Linked DNA regions of Homo sapiens: region 1 is linked to region 2. A link means that fine-mapping ties the variant in region 2 to the expression of a gene that starts in the linked region. Tissue or cell type: nasal epithelium. Region 2 holds a variant in brackets; the other region holds the start of a gene. All regions are shown on one strand. Distances are from middle to middle.

Region 1 (2,682 bases), 280 kb after region 2:
CTTCCCTGCCGGCTAAGCGCTGCCGCCGCTGCCACCGCCGCTGCCGCCTCTGCCAAAGAATCGAACCTCGTCTACTTTATTCCACTTGAGCGTGGCCAAACTGTTGCTATTTAGTGGGGAGCAAAAAAAAACAATTTGCACCATCGAAACGAGCCAGCAACTGGTTGGGAGGCGGGCGGTAGCTGGGCCCCGCGTGCCCTCGGCGGCCGGGGTCCTCTCCGGGGAGAGGCACACACACGCATAGCCGGATCGCGCCTCGCCAGGGCCGGAGTCACCTGGAATGCGCAGCCGGAGAGCATCTCCCGAGCCAGAGCGAGCCTGACGCGCGCCCAGCGGGCGGCGGGCAGCGGCGAGCTGGGGCGGGCGGAGGGCCGGCTCCCGGCCGCGGGTGGGCAGGAGGGAGACGCAGAGCGCGGGGGAGGCAGGCTGGGGAGCGGCCGCCTGACTTACATGGAAGTGATATTCCTTGAGATGTCCGTGATGTTGATACTGGCGTTCCCATTGCTGTTCCCTGAATCCTGCCCTTCCAGGAGGGGGAAGAGGTTCCCATCGTCCGGCCGCCGGCAATTGATCTCAGTCTTGCTGCAGACACAATTTGCAGGGCAAGCCAGCACGGAGCCCACATAGTCCAGCCAGACGCTTCCCAGCAAGAAAATCCGCCAGAAACTACACTTGGCTGGGCAAAGAGAGACATCCATCTCCGATCGCTGCTTCTAAAAAAGAGGAGGAGGAGAGGAGAGGGGGGTGGGGTGGGGGGAGTGGGGAGAGCAGGGGGGGAAGGAAACAAAGACGGCGAGGGAGGGGGGAAGGGGGAGGGGGGGCCTCTGCCTTTGAAACGCCGAGCGATCAGATGCAAAATCCTTCAGCGTCTGAAACCATCGCGGACGCCGCCGCCGCCGCCGCCGCCGCCGGGTGGGAGCCGCGAGGAGCGCCTAGTGGCGCGGTCTGCCGGGCATGGTGGCCGGCTCGGCGATCGCTGACTCGCCGGGTCCGGGGGCTCTGGAAGCGAGGCGCGCTCTCCGACTCCGAGACTTTGCAGGGTTGCAACAGACGGTGGGGAGGCAAAAAAAAAAAAGGAAAAGGAAAAAATGGTGCTAAAGTCACCAAGTCCCACCTACTGGGCAGAATTAAAACGGACACACCACGCACCTGCAAAACACACACACTCACTCTCACACATACACACACCCGGAGCCCGAGGAAAGGAAGAGAAGGAAGATGCAGTAGGAGCTGCAGCAGCCGCCGCGAATGGCTCGCCGCGCGGCTGCAGAAATGTACAAGTGCTCCGAGCCTTACGAAACGCACGGGTTATCGGAGCGTCTTCCTCGGCTCCCTCCCTCCCTTCCTCCCTCCCTCCTCCCCTCCCTCGTCGCGGCCTCCTCCCCCCGCCCCCCGCCCGGGCTGGGAGCGGCAGGAGAGCGGAATCTCCCCCTCCCTCCCCTCCCCACACCCGTCTCTCTCCCCGCCTGTCCTCTCCCTCCTCCCCACCCACCCACCCACCCACTCGCCGGCTCGCGGCTGTAGCCGGCACCGCCACCCGCAGCCTCGCGGCAGCCCGCCCGCTCCACGCCTCGCAGCGCGGCGCCCGCTAGCCGCAGCCCGGGGGAAACCGAGACCGAAGGGAAAAAGTTGCATTTGAGATTGCGAGGGTCGGGGCTGGGGAGGGAGAGTTGGCGAGCTGGCTGCACGACACGGAAAGGCGCTCTCCTTTCCACTTTTTGGCCCTCGCGCTACCCGGTTTTGCTGCAATCCGGACCGCGGTAGGAAGTGAAATGAACGTGGCGGAGGTGATTGGGGAGTGCTCCCAAGCCTTGGGTGGGGGGCGCTCCCAAGCCTGGGTGGGTGGGGGGCGCAGGCTCACGGACGGCGACGGGGGGTGCCGGAGCGCACAGACACCCCAGAGAAGCACCCAGAGCCGGGGACCGGGACCGCAGACGCGCAGTCCTTGGTCTGAATGACACTCATTTCCGTAATCTAGAGTCTGGGGCTCTGGTCTTGGCTGGGAGGGGACTGCGGGACATGGCACGCTAGGTGCCCCCCGTGCCCGCTGCGCTTTCTTGGAGGTGGGTTTTGCATTCGGCCTTGAGCAGGCATGGATCGGGGAAGGAAGAAACAGGGGTCGAAAGGGCTGCGCTGGAGAGCCGAGGTGGCCCCGGGCGAGCTGTGCGTGCAAGAGAAATGGCCGGGGGAAATTGAGATGCAAGGGGCATATTTTGGCAAGCGCCACGCCAGCACCGTCAGAGGCCGGCTTCTCGGGCTCAGCTCTCGGGTGAGCTGAGCTGGCTGCCGGGTGAGGGGGCGGGCGGGCTGCTTTCTCCGGATTCGGGGGCGCAGAACCTCCTCCTTCCCTCCCACACAAGCACCCCTTCCTGGTAGGGACGCAAAGCAGGTGCAGCTTTCGACGAGAGCTCAGATCTCATCCGGGAAAGAAGTGTGTGTGGGGGGGGCCCCGCTTTTGCGCTGGTAGGGATTTTTTTCTTAATAAAACATAAAGATGCCAAGTGTGAGCTGTTTGCTGAAAAAAAAAAAAACGAGCATTCGCTGTGGGAAAGGAGAAGAAAGGGTTAGGGGAGTCCGAGCAGGCAGACACACTACAGCATTCACACGCAGAAGAAAGCAGGGTTCTCCTTCCCGAGCTTGGAGGAGGGCAGGCGAGGAAGCAAAATACATTGAATTCAATTC
Region 2 (2,682 bases):
GAGTTCCAAGTTCCTTCCCAGATACAACCCACACAGACCTGGGCTGGAGGCCTTTGATACCAAATCTGAGCCATCAGTACCTTCTACGTCCCTGTGGGATCTGTGCTCCTCAGAAGTGCTCCTGTCTTTCTTGTTCCCTTCTCTCAAAGCAGAGCATGCCCCAGTCAAAGGTTTGCCTCTGATATCTTCCTTGTCCCCCTCGTTTTTGTCATTCCTCGCCATCCTGGCCCAGGAGCATACAGAACCTTTGAGCAATGCATTCACACCCACCCAGAAGTCAAGCATAATGAGGAGAGAAGATCTAGCTCTCTCAGGCACAAACACCCAGATATTTTGTGATAGAAGGAAAATGTGCCAAAATGAAAAGGGGCAAAAACACAGAGGGGTGTTAGACCTTATCACCCGTGCAGAAATCTCTTCCCTTATCAAGATTTAATTTCAAGGGAAACTGGGGTCACTCTATGCAAGTTTTATCCACTGAGTAGGAGAAACTGGAACAAAAGTCCTACCCAAGAGGGCCTCAGAATCCTGATGGAATTTCAGAACCACCCAAAAAAGCAGACAAGGGACTTATCTCTTGCCAGCATATCTCCTTCAACTCACTTTTGGGTTCAAGTAGGGTTGAAGAAGGAGTCTTATTTAGCTCTGGAAATATACTGTCAGATCTAGGCTGAGGTTTTCTTGGGAGGTGGGAAGTATAGGGGGTGGTAACAGTAGGATTTCTAAAGGCAAAATGCAGAACCAGAGCTATCCAAGGAATCTGGAGGCTGCAAGCAGTTTCGCCCACATCAGCCAGCATTAAAGATTGGCAATGTGGTGGGTGGGGGAGAGCTGGGAGAGAGGAGGAGGAGAGCTCCAGGCCCGTGCTGGACAGTCTAGATGGAAGCCAGACTCCCCATTGTTCTCCACCTTCCTCCCGTCTCTGCTGTCATGCTTAAGAGTTTTCCCTGGGCCCTTCACAGAGAAGACTCCAAGCAGCCAGCATCGCCCCTCTCCCCCTCCCTGTCTCTCCCTCCCTGCCACCTTCATTTTGCTCTTGCTTTCAGAGTCATGCTGGCAGCAATGTGCGAGTCTAGCCAGAGCACA[G/T]GAGTCAGTAAACCCTGAAGGAACAAAGGCTCCGGCTCTTTGCCTAATCCATGTCTGGCTCCGTGCAGAAAGCTACACAACAATGAAGTCGTCCTGCATTGATCTGCCCGCTCCTGAGCTTTCCCGCGGCATCCAACCCTCCCTTGCTGCCTCACCATTGTATCTGAGATGCTTGATCCTTTGCTCATGCCTGGTCTTGACCTGAGGGAACTGGGACGAGCCAGGGGATGTGTCACAGCCCAGTGCTGTGCTGCGGTCACACCTGTGGCTGGGGAGGTGGAGGTGAGGATGTGGCTGCTGGGAGCTTGGCTGCAGAAAGGGATTCCCGCACAAAAGAAGAGACAGAGGTGGCTAGAGGTCAGATTCTTGACTTCCAAATTGAGCCTGATTTGTGTTTGGTCTTTTTAGGGTGAGCATTGCATGGCTGAGCTTGGACATATCAGGAGGTCTTTGAGGTGCGTTGAAGAAAGGTTAAGTGACAGTGGGTAGTCAGACAAGGCCCTTTCTTCTACTACCTTCCTGTCTGAAGCTGCTCACCCTTGCCCAGACCTGGGCAGCCTAACCTGATATCCTAAGGATCAGGTTGGTCTCATCCTTTCTTCTACCACCTTCCTATCTGAAGCTTCTCACCCTTGCCCAGACCTGGGCAGCCTAACTGCTATCCTAAGGATCAGGTTGGTCTCATCCAACTGTATGATGAGTCCTCCCCAATATCAAAAAGGCCATCATTGCTTGGGAATCTCACCAACTGTAAGACATGTGATTAATCTCAGATCTAAGCCCAACCATGCTTTCATACACCCCCAAGTCACTAAATGCTACAATGAGAGGAAAGAACGTTGCAGATGTTCTTTTCCAGTCTTTAAAATCACCCTGTCCCAAAAGTTCCAGAAGGAAGTCAGGGATGGTGCTCATCCCTGAAGACCCCTGAAAGACTTCTCTGTCTTAGGAGTGGAGTGGGGTTGGAGGGGGGAGCACCTAGGTGGTGTTTCACAATCATAGCCTTCCAGGAGCAGAAGATGTGCTACTTTAGGGGGCTGCAGAGTGGCCAAAAGCATTTTGAGGTGTCAGGCAGTCCCCCTGTCAGTCCTGGTTCTGCCAGTTTCAAGCTGTGGAAACCTGAGCTAGTTATTCAATCTTTCTGAGCTTCAGCTTCCTTGTGGGTAAAATCTGACTGGTTCTGAGTAAGTGCTTCATAAGTTACATAGAATTATTACTATTAATGCCCCACAGTAAACCCATTCTTGGGAGGTTGGCAACCAGTTCCAGGACCTCATCATGTAATGCTAGTAAAAAAGTCCAGCCTCTCCAGGGCATGTCCCTGGAATGTGTTAGATCGAATTTCACCTTGTTTCTACAAGATCTTATTGGTACAGTTGAGTTTCTCATTCTCTGAGCTTCAGAACCAGCACCTGTCAACCAAGTCTCTAGAATGAAGATCCAGGGAGCGCCTGGCAAGCACCCTGGGTTCGTGAACTGAGTCAGCTGTCAATCTGTGCAGCAAAATCCCGCAGGATCAAAATGTAAGCTTAAGGTCTGACAAAGCTACTGTGAAATCCTGTTGGTGACATTCGAATGCAGGAGGTCAGGGAGCTG

Evidence for each region. PIP is the estimated chance that this variant, and not a neighbour inherited with it, causes the effect.
Region 1: it holds the start of NTRK3, and the variant in region 2 is fine-mapped to the expression of NTRK3 in nasal epithelium (TOPMed, PIP 0.98).

Annotation. Positions count from the first base shown.
Region 1 is chr15:88,255,456-88,258,137 of GRCh38, forward strand. NTRK3 (neurotrophic receptor tyrosine kinase 3) reads right to left here and starts at 1,284. Exons shown (of 20, transcript NM_001012338.3): 1 at 1,189-1,284; 2 at 829-1,031; 3 at 451-713. The coding sequence starts at 698. All of the region lies in intron 1 of NTRK3-AS1 (NTRK3 antisense RNA 1), which reads left to right. RefSeq lists an enhancer at 1-502.
Region 2 is chr15:87,972,834-87,975,515 of GRCh38, forward strand. All of the region lies in intron 14 of NTRK3 (neurotrophic receptor tyrosine kinase 3), which reads right to left. Among named protein-coding and RNA genes, the nearest start is that of MIR11181, 28 kb to the left of the region's middle. The variant G/T (reference allele first, on the strand shown) is at 1,087.